3 linked regions of the Homo sapiens genome follow. The protein of the gene in region 1 interacts with the protein of each later gene in a pairwise test. Each region holds a gene or a part of one and is shown on either strand. Other genes may lie near its edges.

What was found.
Region 2: the proteins of CCDC33 (region 1) and ABCF3 interact in a two-hybrid assay, tested with the Homo sapiens proteins (2 studies listed by BioGRID and IntAct).
Region 3: the proteins of CCDC33 (region 1) and ABLIM3 interact in a two-hybrid assay, tested with the Homo sapiens proteins (2 studies listed by BioGRID and IntAct).

The regions. Positions count from the first base shown.
Region 1 is NC_000015.10:74,238,966-74,247,040, forward strand, and holds part of CCDC33 (coiled-coil domain-containing protein 33), read left to right. Parts: intron 1-5,019; coding exon 5,020-5,183; intron 5,184-8,075.
Region 2 is NC_000003.12:184,188,124-184,194,505, forward strand, and holds the end of ABCF3 (ATP-binding cassette sub-family F member 3), read left to right. Parts: intron 1-17; coding exon 18-284; intron 285-540; coding exon of another isoform or gene 541-547; intron 548-637; coding exon 638-718; intron 719-805; coding exon 806-865; intron 866-964; coding exon 965-1,021; intron 1,022-1,131; coding exon 1,132-1,154; intron 1,155-1,264; coding exon 1,265-1,320; intron 1,321-1,433; coding exon 1,434-1,634; intron 1,635-1,731; coding exon 1,732-1,808; intron 1,809-2,875; coding exon 2,876-2,920; intron 2,921-2,999; coding exon 3,000-3,132; intron 3,133-4,477; coding exon 4,478-4,566; intron 4,567-4,681; coding exon 4,682-4,773; intron 4,774-4,978; coding exon 4,979-5,111; intron 5,112-5,241; coding exon 5,242-5,329; intron 5,330-5,416; coding exon 5,417-5,575; 3' UTR 5,576-5,882; downstream 5,883-6,382.
Region 3 is NC_000005.10:149,255,897-149,261,521, forward strand, and holds the end of ABLIM3 (actin-binding LIM protein 3), read left to right. Parts: intron 1-2,394; coding exon 2,395-2,508; 3' UTR 2,509-3,649; coding exon of another isoform or gene 3,650-3,679; 3' UTR 3,680-4,646; downstream 4,647-5,625. UniProt on the Homo sapiens protein: May act as scaffold protein. May stimulate ABRA activity and ABRA-dependent SRF transcriptional activity.

The sequences.
Region 1 (8,075 bases):
CTTTCCCCTGGCCGCCATAACTCTCAGGCAAGTTTAGATGTTGAAACTAGAAGGAACATGGGGGACCATTTTTAACTGAAAGTCCTTGTGAAACTGCTGGGAAATAGCCCCACTGCAGTCAAGTAACTTGCCCAAATGACAGATCCGGGCAGCCAGGCACCCTGCCTCCCAGCCCAGCCCCGCTCCAGCTAGTGTGACTTTTCAGACACACGGCCCTTCTAGAGGGCAGAACTGGGCTCAGCTCCTCAGGCCTCCCAGGCTGCTGGAGGATAGGGAGGAGTGGGTGGAAGAGTTTGTCTCCTTCCATCTCTCTCCCCACCAGAACCAAGTTAAGCACCCCCCAACCCACCCGCGGGAGCTGAATTCAAGGACCATTAACTCCCTGTTGTTCCTACCTCCTCCTCTCACCCTAGCCCTTCCCCCCAGCACATGGATCCAAAAATGCCCTAAGTGATGGGCAGTCCTAGTTCCCCTGCAACATCTGCTGGCTAATCCTGGCCTATTGAGGGCAAGGCTGCCTGTCTGTTTGGATAAGGGCACTGGAGTTAGCAGCTTCCAATCTTGCCAGGCCCAGTGGAGTAGCTGAGAGTGCTGAGCTTTGGAATCAGGCTTGCTTCGGTGCTCACAGCCCAGCCTCTCATCCACTGGCTGTGTGGCCTTGGGCAGGTAAACTGGCCAAACCCCTGCCTGGAAAAGCTGCCTGCTGATCTCTGCACCCTAGCAGTGTTGGGTGGGTTAAGTGAGAGGGAGCCTGAGAAGCTGATGGTGAGCATCCAGCTTTGCTCCCAGCCAAGAGGAGGCATGAATTCCCTCCCCAGGGCTCACCACACCCCTACAGATGAGTTTGTGCAAACTGAGAGTTACGGGGGGGGTACCCCATCACCCCCAGTTCCCTACCACTCATGTAACCCAGTATATGCATTTTCTGTTCCCTCATCAATCCTCTAGTGCAGGCCAGGGGTAACAGATGGGTCGAGGACATTGGTTCTGATGCAGGACATCTCTGAGGGAAGCCTGCAGATTCCCATCCAGACATGGGAATAAAAAAGGGATAGCAGGAGGTTAGCAGCCCTGGCCCACCATCCCCCTTCTGGCCTTACCCTTGGCCCCAAGCCTCCCTGGCCCTGGGCCCAGCCTGCCCAGCGGGCACATGCCTGCAAGCCTCACCAGGAGGCGCCAGCCTGGCAGTTGGCCTCATGCCCAGAACTGAAACACAATAGTTCTCGCCAAACTTCCTGCAAGCTTTATTCCCAGAAGGGAAGGCTGTCCCCGAGGGGAGGTGCAGGGGAGATAGAGGAGGAGCCGGTGTGACTCCTGGCCAGGTCTGCAGATGCCTAGTTGGGCTCTGGGGCTGCCAGGGAGCCAATGAGAGCCCCTGGACAATGGTCTTACTCCTGGGCCCTCCCTTTCATGGCCCTAGGGAGCTCATGAGAGGCCCTGTGCCCTCACAGCAAGGTGAATCCATCTAGGAACATGAATCACCCCTCCCAGCCTCACTGCAGGAACTTCAGGCACAGTAACCACTGGAAAGGCTGAATCACAAACTATTCCAGACATTCCCATTGGCCAGGTGGGAAAATCAAGGCTCAGGGAGGTGGTACAGAGAGGTAGGGCCAGAGCTGAGCTGAAACCTAGGTCTTTTTTTTGTTGTTGTTGTTGGAGTCTCACTCTATCACCCAGGCTGGAGTACCATCTTGGCTCACTGCAACCTCCGCCTCCTAGGTTCAAGCAATTCTTCTGCCTCAGCCTCCCGAATAGCTGGGATTACAGCCTCATGCCACCGCACCTGGCTGATTTTTGTATTTTTAGTAGAGATGGGGTTTCACCATGTTGGCCCGGCTGGTCTCGATCTCCCAGCCTCCAGTGATTTGCCCGCCTCGGCCTCCCAAAGTGCTGGGATTACAGGCGTGAGCCACCACACCCGGCCAAGTTGAAACCTAGGTCTTTTTGCCCTGAGGCTGCCAGCCTTACTCCTGTGCCACTAAACCAGGAGAGCAAGGCTGCTGGGGAGTGGGGGGGTCATGGTGGCCTGCATGAGGGTGGATATGGGAGGAAGCTGCCTACCCAGGAGGGCAGGGAACAGCACTCTGGCTGCTCCTCCTCCTTCACCTCCAGGCAGGGGCATCTTCCCCTCCCCTCATTCTCCCCTGACAGGAGCATGGGGGAGAGAAGGAGGGGCAACCCTCATCAACACCTCTGTAGATGGTGACAGGCCCTGCTGGGTCCTGGAAGAGGGTGGGGGTGGCCTCCTCAGTCAGAGGAAGGAGAGGGGGGCCTCTCTGCAGGACTGGCACTTCTGATCTGGGGGGCATGTATTCTCACCTCCTAATTAGCCATCTTGCTAGGCAAGGACCACAGCCTGCACCAGGCAAGCCAAGGGAAGTAGGGGAGCAAGGCACAGGGATGACAGTTCTGGAGTGACACCCAGGGTGGAGCAGAGGAAACAGCTAGGGCAGAGGCGGGGAGGCAGGAGGGAGCTTGGTAGGTGTGAGAAACAGCCAGGAGGCCAGTGTGGCTGGAGCGGAGTGACCCACAGGGCCCGTGGGACAAGATGAGGTCAGTTTTCTGGGCCAGCTCCTGGAGGGCCCCACGGGCCATTGCAAGGCTCTGAGAGAAGCAGCAAGCTACTTCAGGGTTCTGAGCAGAGGAGAGAGAGGGTCTGGGTCCAATCTGTAAAGGCTCACTCTGGCGATTGGATGGGGTGGACGGAGAGTCGGAGAGGAAACAGAACTCCATCAGAGGCGAGTCGGGACATACAGGTGTCTGGGACCTGAGTGCTGACCTGAGGATGCTGAGAAGGGTCAGAGTCCAGATATAGTTTGAAGGTGGAGCTGACAGGATCTGCTGAAGAACTGGATAAGGGATGTAGAGGAAGAGAGGGAAGAATCAGGAAGGACTCCAAGATGTGGGGCTTGAACAACTAGAACAATGGCATCGCCATTAACTCATTAACGAGTTGGGGCAGACAGCAGGAGGAGGGGTTTGAAGGGGAGTCCAGAGTTCGTTAGCTTTGAGAGGCCAGTAGACCCCCAAGGGGAGCTGTTGAGGGGGTGTGTGGCTCCGATTGGTGGGCACCCCACGCTACCGTGAGAAATGGATGAAATAACGTTCCTAAAACTCCTCGGGGCAGAGCAGAGCCTCAGGCACTGTGCCCTTTTCTTTCTGTCTGCCTGAGGCTTCCAGGAGCCAAGGCTCAAGGTAGGAGCAGAGCAGCTTCCAGATAGGTCGGTCCAAGTCCTCATCTCCCCACTGGGGAAACTGACTCTCAGAACATGGCTGGCTTTGGGGCCCAGCATGGTGAGAGGCAGAGCTGGTTTAAACCTACCTCTCCTGACACTCAGGGCTCCTCAGGAGCCGGCCATTCTGAGCCAAGGACCCAGCCTGCCGAGGCTGCCACCAAAACCAGAGCCCGTCCAGGGCCCAGGTCCTTGCTCCTGTCTGGGCCTCAATTTCCTCTCTATGTAATAGGACATTGTTCTCAACCCCACCCAACCAGGGCCTGCCCTGGAATGCAGGGTCTGACAGGCTGAGCTTTCCAGAGATGAGGAACAGCCTGCCAGTGGCCCCTCAGGGCCCTGCCTCCACCCTGAGGAGGTCCATTGCTCCTCTCCCAGAGCCAGGAGTGCCCCTCTATGGCCCCTCATATCAGCTGGAGGGACAAAGGGTAGGCAAGACCTCCTACCACGGGAGGCCTATCAAGGGTTAATCTGTGTCAGATTAACTGGAAGTGGTGAGTCAGCCAGCCGGCCAGTGGAGGACCAGGGCCAGGGAGGACAAGGACACCCCTGAGCCACAGCAGCCTCATGGCCACACCCCTCCCCACCCCACCGCGTTTATATGCCCAGCTCTGCCGTCTTCTCTGAGTCCCCACTGCCTCCCCAGTCAAACTGAGCCACCTCTGGGCCTTGGAAAGCTCTGCCCCTTCCCGCTTGCTGCCTTCGCTCCAGTGTTCTGCTCCTGGCCTGTCCTCCCTGACTCCACTCCTGCACCTTCTCCCAACCCTTTAAGGCCTCCTCCTCCCTGCTGTCTTCCCTGACCGCCTCAGCCGGCCAGGGCTTTGTCTTCTCTCAGCAGCTCTCGTTAAGATGGTCCTTTGGGCCATGAATCCACAAGTTACTAAGCTGCTGAGTCCCTGCTTGGGGCAACTGGTGTAGGAAGCCCCCTGCATGGGCAGGCACCTCTTCCTCCCTAGTCCGCAAGTTTCCTGGGTAGAAGACAGGTGGGGCATCTGGGACAGACACATGCATTCACCTCCACGTAATGCACTGAATGCCCCCATGAACGTGGAGAAGCTTTGTCAGCTGTAAAGTGCTGTGCACAGGAGGGACCTGAGGTGATGGGTGAGCTGAGGTGAGGTTACAAGATAGACTGAAGAAGGTGGCCCATTGTTAGGACTGCAAAAGCAGGTGGGATTTAGGAATTACAGACGAGGACACCTGCGAAAGCTAAGGCTTAGAAGTGGGACCAGACTTGAAAGGTGAGGTGGCCTGTCTCATCCTGCAGGAAGGGTAGGATCCAGGACTAGAGGAGAGGCACTGAGAGAGACGTGGGATGGGGACAGAAGTAGGGAGAAAATGGGGCCAAGGCGACTGCCTTGCAGAGTGGGCGGAAGGGTGACAGAGGGAGGCAGGCACTTGACGGAAGCTGTGAGTGGCTAGTGCTAGAGGGTGGCAGTGAAGGGAGGTGCCGCAGCAGAGGAGGCCACTCAGGGCCAGGTGCAGTAACTCATGCCTATAATCCCAGCACTCTGGGAGGCCGAGGCAGGCAGATCACCTGAGGTCAGGAGTTTGAGACCATGGGGAAATCCCGTCTCTACTAAAAATACAAAAATTAGTTGGATGTGGTGGCACATGCCTGTAATCCCAGCTACTGTGGAGGCTGAGGCAGGAGAATTGCTTGAACCTGGGAGGTAGAGGCTGCAGTGAGCCAAGATGGCACCACTGCACTCCAGCCTGGGCAACAGAGCAAGACTCTGTCTCAAAAAAAAAAAAAAACACTCAGCCCTGGCTCTCCCCACAGAACACTGAAGACCCAGAGGAGCCCCTGATCGCCTCCCAGAGCACGGAACCTGAGATCGGTCACCTGTCTCCCTCTAAGAAGGAGACCATCATGGTCACCCTCCATGGGGCTACCAACCTGCCTGCCTGCAAGGATGGCTCCGAGCCGTGGCCCTATGTGGTGGTGTAAGTAGCTGCGTGAGAGTGGGGGCAGGGGATGGGTTGGGCTGTGAGCAGAAACCAGGGGACAGCTATTTGGAATACTAGCACCCAAAGGCCCAGGACTGGGACTGTCATACCCAGAGGGGAGGAGCTGCTGTGGGCACTACCTGGCATCTCCGCTGCTGCATGGGAAGCTGCTCACCAGGGCTGGGGAAGACAGGGTGCCAACGGATCCAGAGAGTCACCCCTCCCCACCCCACACCAGTGGGGCAGGGATTGGTCACAGCTCAGCTCCAGTGGGGCAGGTTCCTTGTATGCAAAAGTCTGGGCTGGGCTCATGGGCATGATGGTCAGATTGGGGAAGGGGAAGATTTGGGACCTGCCTCTCCTGACTTCTGGGTGCCCCACCCCACCATACCCAGCCCTGGGGTAGGGTCCTCATAACCACCCTCCCCTCCTCCCCTCCTTCTCCAGTCACTTCTATTATGGGGACTCCCCTAGTTCTGGGCCTTTAATGCACCCCACACACCCCCTCCAGCCAGCTGCTGTCAGGGTACACACTTCCCCAGCCTGGCACCAAGGCCTGCCACGCCACGTCTATGCCCACCTCACGGGTCTCACTTCTTCCAGAAAGGCGCCAAGGGGCAACACAATCTCCATCCAGCCAACCTTCGCTGGGGACACTGAATATTTGCTCAATCTTTATTATAAAGCACCCTCCAAGGAGCATGTCACCCCTAGACCTTCTATAGACAGACGGCGGGAGCCTTGGTGGCCTCCCACCAAGCCACCCTATACTTCCCCTCCCCCACCAATACTGGCACCATTCAGTTCCTGCCAAGAGTCTGTTGCCCACATTTCCTTTTGGGGAGTGCCTGCCCCAGCCCACTCACCAATGCCTGCTGAAATCCTGCCTTCAAAGCCTCCTCCTCCAGGCAGCCACCAGAGTTGAGCTCTCCCTCTTCTGGAGCTCCACAGCAGTGGTGACCCTGGTCTGAAGCACTTTATATCAACATGGTTTATGCACTCCTCTGGGGCTCCCTGAGGACGGATCTCCTCCTCCATTTCCCTCAACAATGCATCCAACATAGGCCTGAGCCCAAACTTAGGAGCCAAGGAGTGACTGAGGCCAACACCTGGTTACTATGATAAGTCCCTGCCCCCCCAGGGCCCCCACTGTGAAAGGGGGGTAGAAGCTGTGCCGAGAGCAACAGGTGAAACACTTGCCTTAAAAGCCCCATTTGTGCCAGCCCAGCTCCTCGGCCATCCCTCCCCCAACTCCATTTCCGTGGTGAGGGAAGCACAGGTGGTGGGAGCAGGCTTGGCAGGGAGGCTGGTTTCTAGCGGGGAGCTCGCCTTCTCCGCTCAGCTATTTCCATAAACCAATTATCGCCGATCATCTCGGGAGATTGAGGCCCTGACTGTCACCAATCCGGCCTGGGCGGCGGGGCGGGGAGCTGGGTGGCTGTGTGGCTCCTAGGCAGGCACCGCGACCCGCGCCATCACCCGGTTGCCATGGGAACGCGCGGCAGGAGCCTAGGCGACACGAGCCTGGGTGGGGGTTCGGAGAGCCGGGCACACCCCGAGTCCTCCTGCACCCTCCCTGTGGCTGCGGCACGTGGGGCGGGAGGGTGGGGACAGAGAACGCGGGGAGGGGGGAGGGGAAAGCACTTCGCTGCACCCTTCTCCAGCTGGGAGCAGCGCCCGGGCCAGGCTGCAGCCTGCGTCCCAGGGCTCCAGACAGGCGAAGCTGCCACCAGCTCGAGGTGGTGCTAATGAGATGCAAATGATGGGAGAAGGAAGGGCTTCTGAGAATGTGAAGGCCGAGCTGTCAGGACCTGAAGGGGGCTTTCAGTGCTCACCCCCAGCCCCAGGCAGAAACCCCAGAGGGAGGATCCAGACCCTCAGAGGCCATAGAACCTGGAAAGAATTTATATCCCTGCACATCTGATTACAAATAAACAAGTAACAAAGCACACAATAGGCATAAGAAAGTTCATGAAAGTTTTCGTTTTGTTCATGATGAATATTTCAATGCTTTTTAAAAATATGTATTTGTGAAGACTTCAATGTAAGACCTGCAACTGTAACACCCCTAGAAGAAAACACAGGGGAAAGGCTCCTTTACATTGGTCTTGGCAATTAATCTTCGGATATGACACCGGAAGTACAGGCAACAGAATCAAAAATAAGTGAGACTGCATCAAACTGAAAAGCTTCTGCGCAGCAAAGGGAATAATCCACAAAACAAAAAGGCAGCCTATGGTATGGGAGAAAATATTTGCAAAACATGTATCGGATAAGGAGTTAATATCCAAAATATATGAGTAACTCATACAACTCAATAGCAAAAAGACAAGTAACCCAATTTAAAAAATGAGAAAAAGACCCGAATAGACATTTTTCCAACAAAGAAATACAAATGGCCAACAGGCACATGAAAAGGTGCACATCGCTAATCATCAGGGAAGTGCAAATCAAAGCCACAAGGAGATAGCACCTCACACCTGTTAGGATGGCTGTTCTCAAAAACACAAGAGATAAGTGTTGGTGCGGGTGTGGAGAAAAGAGAACGCTTGTACACTGTTGGTGGGAATACGCAGTAAAATGGTGCAGCCATTATGGAGCACAGCACGGAGGTTCCTCAAGAAATTGAAAATAAAACTACCATATGATCCCGCAATCTCACTACTGGGTATATATCCAAAGGAAACAAAATCAGTATTTTGAAAAGATATCGGGCCGGGCGCAGTGGCTCACGCCTGTAATCCCAGCACTTTGCGGGGCCGAGGTGGGCGGATCACAGGGTCAGGAGTTCAAGACCACCCTGGCCAATATGGTGAAACCCCATCTCTACTAAAAATACAAAAATTAGCCGAGCGTGGTAGCAGGCACCTGTAATCCTAGCTACTAGGA
Region 2 (6,382 bases), on another chromosome or scaffold:
TTTCTCCACTCCTGCAGAGTACTGCTGGCTGGAGCGGATGTGAACCTGGCATGGGGCCGCCGTTACGGGCTGGTGGGGCGGAATGGGTTGGGGAAGACAACGTTACTGAAGATGCTGGCCACCCGGAGTCTGCGGGTTCCAGCCCACATTTCCCTGCTGCACGTTGAGCAAGAGGTTGCTGGAGATGACACTCCTGCCCTGCAGAGTGTGCTGGAGAGTGACAGTGTGCGAGAGGATTTGCTACGGAGGGAGCGGGAGCTCACTGCCCAGATTGCTGCTGGCAGGTGAGGACTCCCGGCTAGGGAGTAACTAGCAGCCGCTGTCGCTTACAGAGCGCCTGCCGTCCTGGAACAATCCATAATTTGCATGTACATCCTAGTAATCAGCAGAGCTTAGAACTTGGCACTCTGGGACTCAGAAGCCCTTGTTCTTTCCACAGTGCCCATTGCCCTTTCTTGTTCTTTCCACAGTGCCCATTTCCATAGTGCCCAAGGTAATGAGCACTGTGCAAACCCTTCCTGTATTCTCTTCCTCTTCCAGCCACAAGGTAGCCAATGGCCTTTCCAACGGTATAGGGTGCAGGACATCCTCCTAGACTGCCCCTGCTTAGGCCAATTGCTGTTTCTCCTCCCTCCAGGGCGGAGGGCTCTGAAGCTGCAGAGCTGGCAGAAATCTATGCCAAACTGGAGGAGATTGAGGCTGACAAGGCACCTGCCAGGTATTTAAAGCTCCCCCTCCCTCCTTCAGATTTCCTTTCCCTTCTGTGGACTGTTCCAACTGAGTTCTTCGATTTCTTCTCTACTAGGGCATCAGTCATTCTCGCTGGGCTTGGCTTTACCCCTAAAATGCAGCAGCAGCCCACCCGGTGAGTGACCCTTGCCATTCTTGGCTTTGAACCCTGTTGTCTCAGCCCCTTCCTGCCCTGATGAACACCCACCCATAATGTGACTCCATCATTCTTTAGGGAGTTCTCAGGTGGCTGGAGGATGAGGCTGGCCCTGGCCCGGGCCCTCTTTGCTAGGTGAGTCTCCTGGGCCAGTGTATGAAGCCCTATGGAAGATTGGTCTTAGCTCTTGGGAGGTGGCATGAGTTGCTGACCTAAAACCTCAGGCCATGTATTGTTTTTCATAGGCCAGATCTTCTGCTGTTAGATGGTGAGTTTGAAATGGGGCACCCTGACTTTAGGATGGGCAGGGGTGGTAGCATCCAAGTTCCTAGTTCTCCAGCCCTTCAATCCCAAGTGTGTGCTCCCCTGCTTCTCCAGAACCTACAAACATGCTGGATGTCAGGGCCATCCTGTGGCTGGAGAATTACCTGCAGGTGAGTGCCTGTGGGTGCTGGAGTGTGTTGGGGAAAGGCGGCCTCCAAGATACCTGGGGGCCTGAGAACTGACTGCCCTCCCAAACCGGGCCTGCTGTCCTGTGACCCCTCAGACGTGGCCCTCCACCATCCTAGTCGTCTCCCACGACCGCAACTTCTTGAATGCCATCGCCACAGACATCATCCACCTGCACAGCCAGCGGCTAGATGGTTACCGGGGAGACTTTGAGACCTTCATCAAGAGTAAGCAGGAGCGGCTGCTCAACCAGCAGCGTGAATATGAGGCGCAGCAGCAGTATCGCCAGCACATCCAGGTGTGGGGCCTGGCAGGGCTGGGGGTCCCATCCCAGGGGTTCCAGAGTGGGGGATAGTGGGGGAATTTGACCAATGCCTACACTCCTCCACCTGCAGGTTTTCATTGACCGGTTTCGCTACAATGCCAACAGGGCCTCTCAAGTGCAGAGTAAACTCAAGATGCTGGAGAAGCTGTGAGTACAGCATCCTTGGCCAGGGCCTGACTCCTGTTCTCTTCGTCTCCTTCCGCATTTGCACGCCACCCTTGCCCTACCATTCTAGGTCTCCCCTTCGCTAGAAGCCAACTGTGACTTCCTCCTCTGCTGGGAAGCAGAGTATTCCACACTGTTCTTGGAGGGCTAATCTTGACTAGCACATGGCAACCACTAATTTACTTTCTGTTTCTGCTTCTACGTATCTGCTTATTCTGGGCATTTCATATAAATGGAATCATACAATATGACCTTTGTGCCTGGTGTCTTTTACCTGGCGTCATGTGTGAGGCTCATCCATATTGTAGCGTGCGTCAGAGCTTCATTTCTTTTCGTGGCTGGATAATATTCTGTTGTGTGGATATACAGCATTTTGTTTATTGAGTCATGAGGGGCCATTTGGGTTGTTTCCATTTTGGTTATTATGAATAATGTTGCTGTGAACATTGGTGTACAAATTTTTGTGTGGACATATGTTTTCAGCTTGCTTGGGTGTATACCTAGGCGCAGAATTGCTGGGTTACCTGGTAATTCCAAATTAATGTTTTGAGGAACTGTCAAACTGTTTTCTAAAGCAACAACATCATTTTACATTCCTACCAACAAGGGATGAGAGTTCCAATTTCTCCATGTCTTTGGCAGCACTGTTATTGACTTTTTTTTTTTTAGTTTTAGCCATCCTAGTGGCTGTGAAGTGATAGCTCATTGTGGTTTTGATTTGCATTGCCTTAATAACTAATGATAATGTGCATTGGGAGTTTAATTTTGAAGTGCCCTTTCTATAAGTGCTGGCAGGAAGCTTAAAATCATAAAGCTTAGATGTTTGCGACGTGGAAACATATCACAATATAGTAACTGGGGATAAAAAGTCACAAAAAGCCTAATTCTATTTTTTAGCATACAGTAAATGAGAAGAATGGACTCTAAAGTAATGATACCTGAGTGGTAGGAGTACAAGCCCTTTCTAAGTTTTCTCTGAACATATATTACTCGTGTAGGAAGTTATTTTTTTAAGTAATAAATCTAGTCTACCTCATCTCTTCTCCCAGGCCTGAGCTGAAGCCTGTGGACAAGGAATCAGAGGTCGTAATGAAGTAAGTGCTGGGCCAGTGGGGCTGGTGGGGAATTGCTTGCTTCCAGCTGCCCCCACATCCTCACCCCTACCTCCTGCAGGTTCCCTGATGGGTTTGAGAAGTTCTCGCCGCCAATTCTGCAGCTAGATGAGGTGGATTTCTACTACGATCCGAAGCACGTCATCTTCAGTCGCCTCTCTGTGTCTGCTGATCTCGAGTCTCGCATCTGTGTGGTAAGGCTGCTGTTTCTCTGTGCTGCGAGCTGGGACTCTCCTGTCTAAGTGTGTGGTGTGGATTGGCCCAGATCCTCAGGCTGTAAAGGGACGAGGTCTGTGGAACAGGAGTGAGGGCCCGGGCTAAGGATTTTGCAGGACTTACACTAGCCCTGTCCTCTGGCCGCACAGCGCTGCTCTTCAGGGAGGAAGAGCCTAGTGTATAGTGTTTTAAAAATACTTAAAAATACTTAAAGCAGTGCTTTACCTTATTGGTCTCGGTTCTGAGTTTTCTAAACCTGGAGACATTGAGGAGAGAGCATGGGCTTCAGGGTCAGACTTCGGATCTTGACTATGCCATTTCCTAGCTTGGTTACCAAGCAGCTTCCTAACTCTTAAGATGGCGCTGACATCTACCTCACTTGGTTCTTGGGAAAAGTAAGTCCCCAGCACTTAGCAAATACTCAAGTATTGCTCACCTTAGTATATGCATTTTTCTGTAGAGTTAGAGTTCCTTTTTTTTTTTTTTCGGAGACAGAGTCCTGCCCTGTTGCCCCGGCTGGAGTGCAATGGCACAATCTTGGCTCACCGCAGCTTTCGCCTCCCGGGTTCAAACAGTTCTCCCTCAGCCCCACAAGTAGCTGAGATTACAGGCACCCGCCACCATGCCCAGCTAATTTTTTGCATTTTTAGTAGAGATGGGGTTTTACCATATTGGCCAGGCTGGTCTCAAACTCCTGACCTCAAATGATCTGCCTGCCTCAGCCTCCCAAAGTGCTGGGAATACAGGCCTGAGCCACCGTGCCCGGCTAGAGTCCTTAAAAATATTTTTTTGGTTGTTGAAGGAGTCATCGGGACTGGGGACTGCCTGGGACCCCTTCTAATTTCCTTCTCCTCTGTGTTACACACAGCGGTGCTCTTTTTATTGATACATAATTGTACATATTTATGGGGTACAGAGTGATACTTCCATGCATGTATACAATGTGTAATGATCAAATCAGGGTAATTAGCATATTCATCATAAACATTTATCACTTTATGTTGGGAACATTCAGAATCTTCTAGCTTTTTGAAAATGTACAGTCTATCATTGTGAACTGTAGCGTCCCTGCAGTGCTGTAGAACCCTAGAACTTATTCCTCCATTCCTCCTATCTAACTGCAATTTTGTTTCAGTTAACCAACCTCTCCCGAACCCCTCTCTCAATTCCCCTCCTCCCCCCTTATCCTTCCCAGCCTCTAGTAACCACAACTCTGCTCTCTACTTCTATGTGCTCAACACTTTTTAGTGCCCACATATGAATGAGAACATACCGTATTTATTTTTCTGGCACACACTGTATGACATTTTCATGTTTCTTAAGGTTGGAGAGAATGGGGCTGGGAAGTCTACCATGCTGAAGCTGCTTTTGGGGGACCTGGCACCTGTTCGGGGCATCAGACACGCTCACAGGTCAGGCCCACCCGCACCCCTGCCCCCATGAGCACATTTGCAGGCACCCATGCTGCCTGCGCTCCTTCGTGGCCATTGCCTTTGTCTGTTTTTCCACCTCGGCTTCTGCCTGCAGGAATCTGAAGATTGGCTATTTCAGCCAGCACCATGTGGAGCAGCTGGACCTAAACGTCAGTGCTGTGGAACTGCTGGCACGCAAGTTTCCTGGTGAGTTAGGGATTTGAGTCGGGGGAAGAGTTTGAGTAGGGAAGAGGGCTGAGGCTGACCCCGGCAGCTAGGCCTGCCTTGGGGTGCGTGCAGAGCAGCCCCGCCAAGCCTAGATGGAAGGACATGGGGACTTGGAGGTGTGGCTGGAGGGCACAGGGAGGGTGTTGGGCCAAGAAGCCACCTGATCTGGGGAGTCCTTTTCCAGGGCGGCCTGAGGAGGAGTACCGTCACCAGCTGGGTCGGTATGGCATCTCCGGAGAACTGGCCATGCGTCCTCTTGCCAGCCTGTCTGGGGGCCAGAAGAGCCGAGTGGCCTTTGCTCAGATGACTATGCCCTGGTGAGGCCTCATTTTCCAGAGCTCTTCCCCTCCCATTTCCCCTTCTTGCCCAGTAGAAAACTGTATCAGAAGGCTTTATTTTCTCTCACCGCACCCCTTCACTGCCCACCTTCCTGGTTCTGCCTTCCAGCCCCAACTTCTACATTCTGGATGAACCCACAAACCACCTGGACATGGAGACCATTGAGGCTCTGGGCCGTGCCCTCAACAATTTCAGGGTGAGTGTGCCTTCACCCTGACCACTCCTCCCAGGCCTCGGTGCCTCTTGTGTCCCCCTGAGCACCTCCTGCCCTCCTGTCTTTCAGGGTGGTGTGATTCTGGTGTCCCACGATGAGCGCTTTATCAGGCTGGTGTGCCGGGAGTTGTGGGTATGCGAAGGAGGCGGCGTCACCCGTGTGGAAGGAGGATTTGACCAGTACCGCGCCCTCCTCCAGGAACAGTTCCGCCGCGAAGGCTTCCTCTAGGGCCACCAGGCTGAGGACTCGCCCAGGACATGGACTGGTCTCTCAGACCCCTGGGCCACCATGTAGGCCACCACTCCAGGCCGTGGACTTCCCCCAACTTGGGGACAGCCTTATTCCCAAATGTCTCTATCCTTTTGACTGGAGCATCTTCTGCACAACCTTGGGAGCCCATCCAAGGGTTGGTGAGGACTGGTCTCCCGGGGGTGGGGGTCTGGGGGGTACCCTCTGGGGTTATAGATTCCCCCACTGCCCCAGCTCTGACTGGACCCCAAGTGGCTGCTATGTAAATTAAATCTCTCCCCGCGTCTCCTTTGCCTCATGTCTGCTGCTCCCTGGGCAGTGGTTGCCTCCTACTGAGGGCTGTGGACTCTCGGATTGGCGTTTTCCTATGGCACTTGTATCCCTCACGTGTAGGAAGCAATAGCAGCACCAGCCTTGCCTCTAGAAGAGACATTGTCAAGCTACTGGGGCATGGAGGTCATCTGCCTGCCTGACCTTGGGGTGGGCTGAGCCAGTGGAATGAAGGGCAGTGTATTGGCATCATTGCGGTGCTGTTAGCCCTAGCCTGGGCTCAGCCTCAGCTGAAGGGGTCTTGGGTTCTGTCGTCACAGCCCCCACTGATGGGCAGTTGAACTGATTGTGTAACCTGGCCTCACACGTGGCCAGCTGCTTTCTCCAGTCATATCTGGCTCCGGCTTGCCCTGCTTCTCTGCTCTCTAGACTCAGCACTGAAGAGAAACCATCTTTGTCCTCACTTTGCTTGGGTGATTGCATGTTCTTTATATTTCCTCTAACCATATAGGAGGG
Region 3 (5,625 bases), on another chromosome or scaffold:
TGTATCTGCTCATTCACCCTCATGGTATTCATGGTGGAGACACTAGGATGCTCCCATTTTCCAGAAAAGGAAATTGAAGTTCAGGAGGGGTTAGGTAACTTGTCCATGGTCACATGGCCATTTCTCCCTGGCTGTAAGAGCTGCACTGTTAACCTTCCTGCTTTAACGCCTTTCTGTGGCAAATGTCAGATGGACAGTAGTGGCATTAGGGGCCTTGAGAACTGGAGGGAGAAAGGAGGCCCCAGCTGGCCCTTAGAGGAGAGAAGCCCTGGTCTCCTTCCAGTGTGTCCTGCTTGTGAACACATTACTTGAGGGTGAGTCTACCATTCTTTTATATCAAGACTCATAACAAAGATTTTTTAACATGATAGAGAAACTCAACTGGAGAACCAATACAGACCACCACCCTCCAACAACAATAACAAACGATTCCAAAGTGCAGTTTCCCTCTGTCTTTACTATGGAAGGAGCAGAGAAGGGGACTCTCCTATCCAAGGTGTCTTTCAGCACTCACTTGAGTAGCACAAACATGGACAAGTCAATAGTACAAAGAAAGAGGCAGGGTCTTAGGGATCTAACAAGCAAATGTGATGTGTAGGCACTGCCTGGGTCCTAGTTCAGATAAACCAACTGTGAAAAGACATTTTCAAGACAGGAACTTTGTAATGGACAGGTATCAGGGAATTCTGAAGAATTCCTGTTAGATTTTCTTGAGTTTACTCATGGCATTGTGTAACCACAATGTGAGAAAATATTCAGTGTGTTTTGAGAAACATTCTGAAGTGCATAGGAATGAACTGACACAATGTCTAGGCTTTGCTTTAAAATATTTCAGAAAATAAAATAGGTAAATGAAGCAAATGTGGAAAACCTCACAATTACAGGATCTGGATAGTGGACATGGGCTTTGTCCTATTTTCTCTCTTTTGTGTAGTTTTGACATTTTTCATAATAGACTTACTTATGAATTTTTTTAATGGGGTTGACCAAGAGGGGCAGTGAGAATGTAATGCATTTTGCCTGGACTTCGGTCCCAGCTCTACTACTTCAAAAATTATTGACCAAAAATTATCAATATTACCTTTGTTTGAAATTCTGAAGGTATGGGGAAAATGTTAGTTCACATGGCCATGCGCCGTGGCTTACGCCTGTAATCCCAGCACTTTGAGAGGCTGAGGAGGGCAGATTGCCTGAGCTCAGGAGTTCAAGACCAGCCTAGGGAACATGGTGAAACCCCATCTCTACTAAAATACAAAAAAATTAGCCCAACGTGATTGTGTGCACCTGTAGTCCCAGCTACTTGGAAGGCTGAGGCAGGAGAATCACTTGAACTGGGGTGGTGGAGTTTGCAGTGAGTTGAGATCATGCACTGCAGCCTGGGTGACAAAGCAAAACTCTGTCTCAAAAAAAAAAAAAAATAGTTCACAGTGACAACAAGCCAGAGAACTGACTGTGGTCACATAAATAATTTTCACTGAATCTCCTTCAGCACCCAATTAGCTCATGTAATTGCTACCAACAAGCCAGCTCAAGTGAATCCATTAAGTTTGTAAGCAGTATATATGCCATATATTTCTCTTTGTAAACTTAATTTTAAATTTCATTTTGAAAAACTGTAGCTATCCAGGAAAGTTTCAAGAATAGTAAAATGAACATCCATCTACCATTCACTAAATACAACAATTGTTAACATTTTGCCACATTTTAAGTGCTGTATATTTCTAACTCTAAAAGCTTTTGACAATGTATCACACTTTTAAAGCTGCTTAGAAGGGAGGAAGGGAAGGAGGGCAGAAAGAGGGGAAAATCCACTATAGAATGCAGACAAGGGTTTGATTATAAAGCATATTTGTTTTCATATCAGAAAAAGATAAAAGGACATTTTGGTGAATCAAAAATTAAGAGCAGAAATTTTTTTCATTGACTGGCCTGATGAACAGCCTTCCAGATCATTTGTTAAAACATCAGTAAGAGGAAATATCCCCTAAAATCTTGGACATGGCTCCTTTTTCTCTCAACGGGGAGTGGGATAACATGAATCCACACACACTTCTGGATGCAAATACATGGATCAGGCATGCAGAAAGCGGAGGGGTCAACAGGGGACTCCAAGGGGTGTGTAGTGGAAGCGGAAGTCCCACTTGAGTCATAGGCAGGGGAGGCCTCTTCAGCCAAATCAGCTCCAGAGTCCTCCCTGGGAAAATGTTCATTCCATATTCACTCATTCAACAAATATTCATCACACATTCCCCAGGCTCAGGCACCATGCAAGGCACAGGGTGCCCAGAGGGAACATGCAGCACCCACTGCTGCCTCCAGCTACCCCTGCATCTTGCATCCTCATGCTGCTCTCTTTCTCTGTCCCCCCACCCCCGCCTGCCCTGCCTCCTTCAGCGCCACCTGTCCCAGGAAGAGTTCTACCAAGTCTTTGGCATGACCATCTCTGAGTTTGACCGGCTGGCCCTCTGGAAGAGGAATGAACTGAAGAAGCAAGCCCGGCTGTTCTAGGCAGAGGCTCTATAAATATATATGCATTTATATAAAGATATATGTAAAATCTCTCTACTGAAGCTCGGTATAATCCTCTCTTGTGTAATGGGACACACTGCCTGCCATGAGACTTGCTTTTCTGTACTGTCAGGCAAGCCCACGTCATCGAGATATTTTTATGCTCCTTACTTTCTCTTTTCTAAGTGCTGTGGGATCTGGGAAGGGATTTGAGGGGACTCTGTCCTTTTATTGGGGATCCTTTTTATACTGAAACATCTGTCCTAACTTGAGTGCCCCAAGGTCCAACTCTCTTTCCTAAAGAAGGTGCCTGAAGAAGTCTCTCTTCTCTCTGCTTCGTGGCCCCTTTCTTAAATTTCTAGGGCTGATGCTGACCATGTGGTTTCCACACCTTATTGGCCCCAGAGGGGCCCTCCCATGGGAAGATCTGCAGCAGTCTCCCCAAATCAGTGAGCACCTTTGAGCGCCCACGAAGAACTTTCTCAACACCCCCAATTAGGAGCTCAGTGCTCTCTTGGGGCAATGCAGTTAAAAGGGTGAGCCTCAAATCTAGTCATTACACCAGTCAACAGAAGTGGACAGGGCCTAGGCCTCTCCTCAGCTCCTTAACCCTCCTCCTTCTGCCCTGGATTGTAACCTCTCCCTTGTCCAAATCTAGGATTCCTGGTAGGAAAAGGAAAAGGCCCTTCCCTTCCCTCCACCACTTCCAACTGGCCCCTTTGCCTGACCTGGACTTGGAGAACCAGAGGAAAAGAGAGGGAGCGGAAGTGGGAGATGGAGCAGGGCACCTGTTAGAATCAGAGCTGCAGGATTTCTTGGGACCCTCCTCTCTCCCTCACTGCTCCCAGCACCTCCTGACCCTTCCCTCTTTCAAGGAGAAGCCCATGATTGCAGCTTGTATTCTTTAGCCTTATTACAATCTATGTGCCTGACAACTCAACACACCGCAGGGCTAATGTTCCCACCAGAGCTCCAACTGAACAACCAGACAGACAACTCTCATCATCCTCCAGAGAGAAAATAGGCCGTGTCTCAAAGAAAGGTTCTTGGTCTATGCCTCTGGTCTGTGGGCTGGCAGGGCAACCATACCATACCCCCGCCAGTCCTCGGCTCCTGCTGCAAAGTTGGCCATGTTTCACAGGGAAACTTTTGGAAGAGTGGCTGCTTATGAGATTCCAAAATGAAGTGTTGGCCAACACCGCTCATGGCCATCCTGGATTTTCCCAGTGGCTTCCCTTCCTGCTCGCCTCCCTGAACAGGGGAGAAAGCTTAACCTCTCTTCTCCTCTCCAAACCTTTCACCTTGAATGGGTAATGTTTGGTGGGGGCTGTTCCTTCTTGGAGAAGCCTTGAGTCGGACCATTTTGAGATCATGGAGGAAGGATGAAGAAGTGAAAATGACAATAATGACTCTCAAGAGGCTGGCGATGTGACATGGCAAATGTAGAACTGACTTAAATTGAACAAACCCTCACTGAGCACCTCTGATGTTGAGCACCTGCTGAATACTGAGCACTGAATGGGGGAGGGGGAGGGGAGCACGGGGTGAGTCAACCTGGGACTCGGTCTCAGGGATATGCCTACCAATAGCGGGTATCGTAAGGCATGTACCCAAACATAACGGATGTAAGGCAGAAAGTGATCGGAGAAGGAATGAGAAAGTGTGCGTGATGTTAATGAAAAGTCATATGCAGCTAGAGCAGACCCAGGAAAGCTTTCTGGAAGAGATTGCATCTGAGGAAATTCAGGAAGGATCTTTGTAGATTGGGGGGAGATTCTAAATTGAAGGGGTGATGGGGTGAGGGGCCAGAGGGAAGTCTGCTGTGTTCTCATGTAGGATGTCAGCCCTCCCTGCAACTTCTCTTTTTGGCCAATGTCTTTTCACTTTCCTGACCCTTTAGAATCATCCCCAGCCAGACGCAATCATGGAAGTTGCCTTATTGTCACTGGTTAAGAACTTGGCGAGATTGAAGGGCTTTTGTTATTGTTGTTGGATATTTTTGTTTCCCATAAAAGCACATCATTTCAACCCTAAACCTGTGTGCTTCTGTTGTTTCTTGTGTGGGAGTGGAAATGACTGACATGGGAAGAGGCTGAACCCTGCACATTTTTCAAAATGAAAGCACCAAAACAGCAGCCACTCCTTTGGCCTCAGTTTCTCCTTCTGTAAAATGAGAAAGTTTGGTAAAGGTAAACATCACTTAGATTCTTTTCTGTAGAATGCAGGATCCCTCAAGATGGTAAAGGATGTTCCAACAACAAAGAACTTCTGTGATCAAAAATAATAATAATAATAATAATAATAATAATAATAATAGTTCCTTATTACTAAGCACCAGCAATGTTCCAAGTTCTATGTGAGCACTTCACACCCATCATCTCATTTAAGCTTCTGAAACAACCCAAGAGGTAGCCGTTATTAACATCTCCATCTCCTAAATGAGTAAATAGCTTTGAAGAGAACCATAATTACTGCTGGTAGAGCCAGGAGTGAATTCTAGCCTGTCTGACTCAGAGAGACCAGCTTACCACTCTTATTAGGCAAGATCCTTCCAGCTGCAGGTAAAGAGAGCATCTTATTACAAGTGGCTTCAACAGTGAGAACATGTGTTGTCTTGCATGACCAGAAATCCAAGGTGCAGAGTTAGTACATTCAGCAGCTCAGGGATGGAGTCCAGAGCCCAGGTTGTTTGTATCTCTGTACCCCACCATCCTCAGCATGTTGGCTCTTGTCCTCAGCCATGTGTCCTCTATGTTTACAAGAGGCTTCTGTGGCTCCAGGCACCATGTCCTCACACAATCACATCAAAAAACAAGACAGTCTATTGCATGTCTATTGTAGTCAGAAAAACTTTTCCAAAGTCCTCAGTAGACTTCTGCTTGGATCCCACCGGCCAGAACTAGGGATATGTCCATGATCCTGCTGCAGTAAAGGCTGGGAAACTGGGCATTTGGCATTTTCAGCCTCAACAGGGGGAACCAGGCCCTCTACTAACAAAGAAGAAGGAAGCAGGGCAGAAAAGGATGGCCTCTGGGTGACGAAATCACAGCGCCTCTGCCACAACTGCTGTGCCGTTAAAGAGCACATCACGTCCCTTCTCTCGTAGACTCACAACAC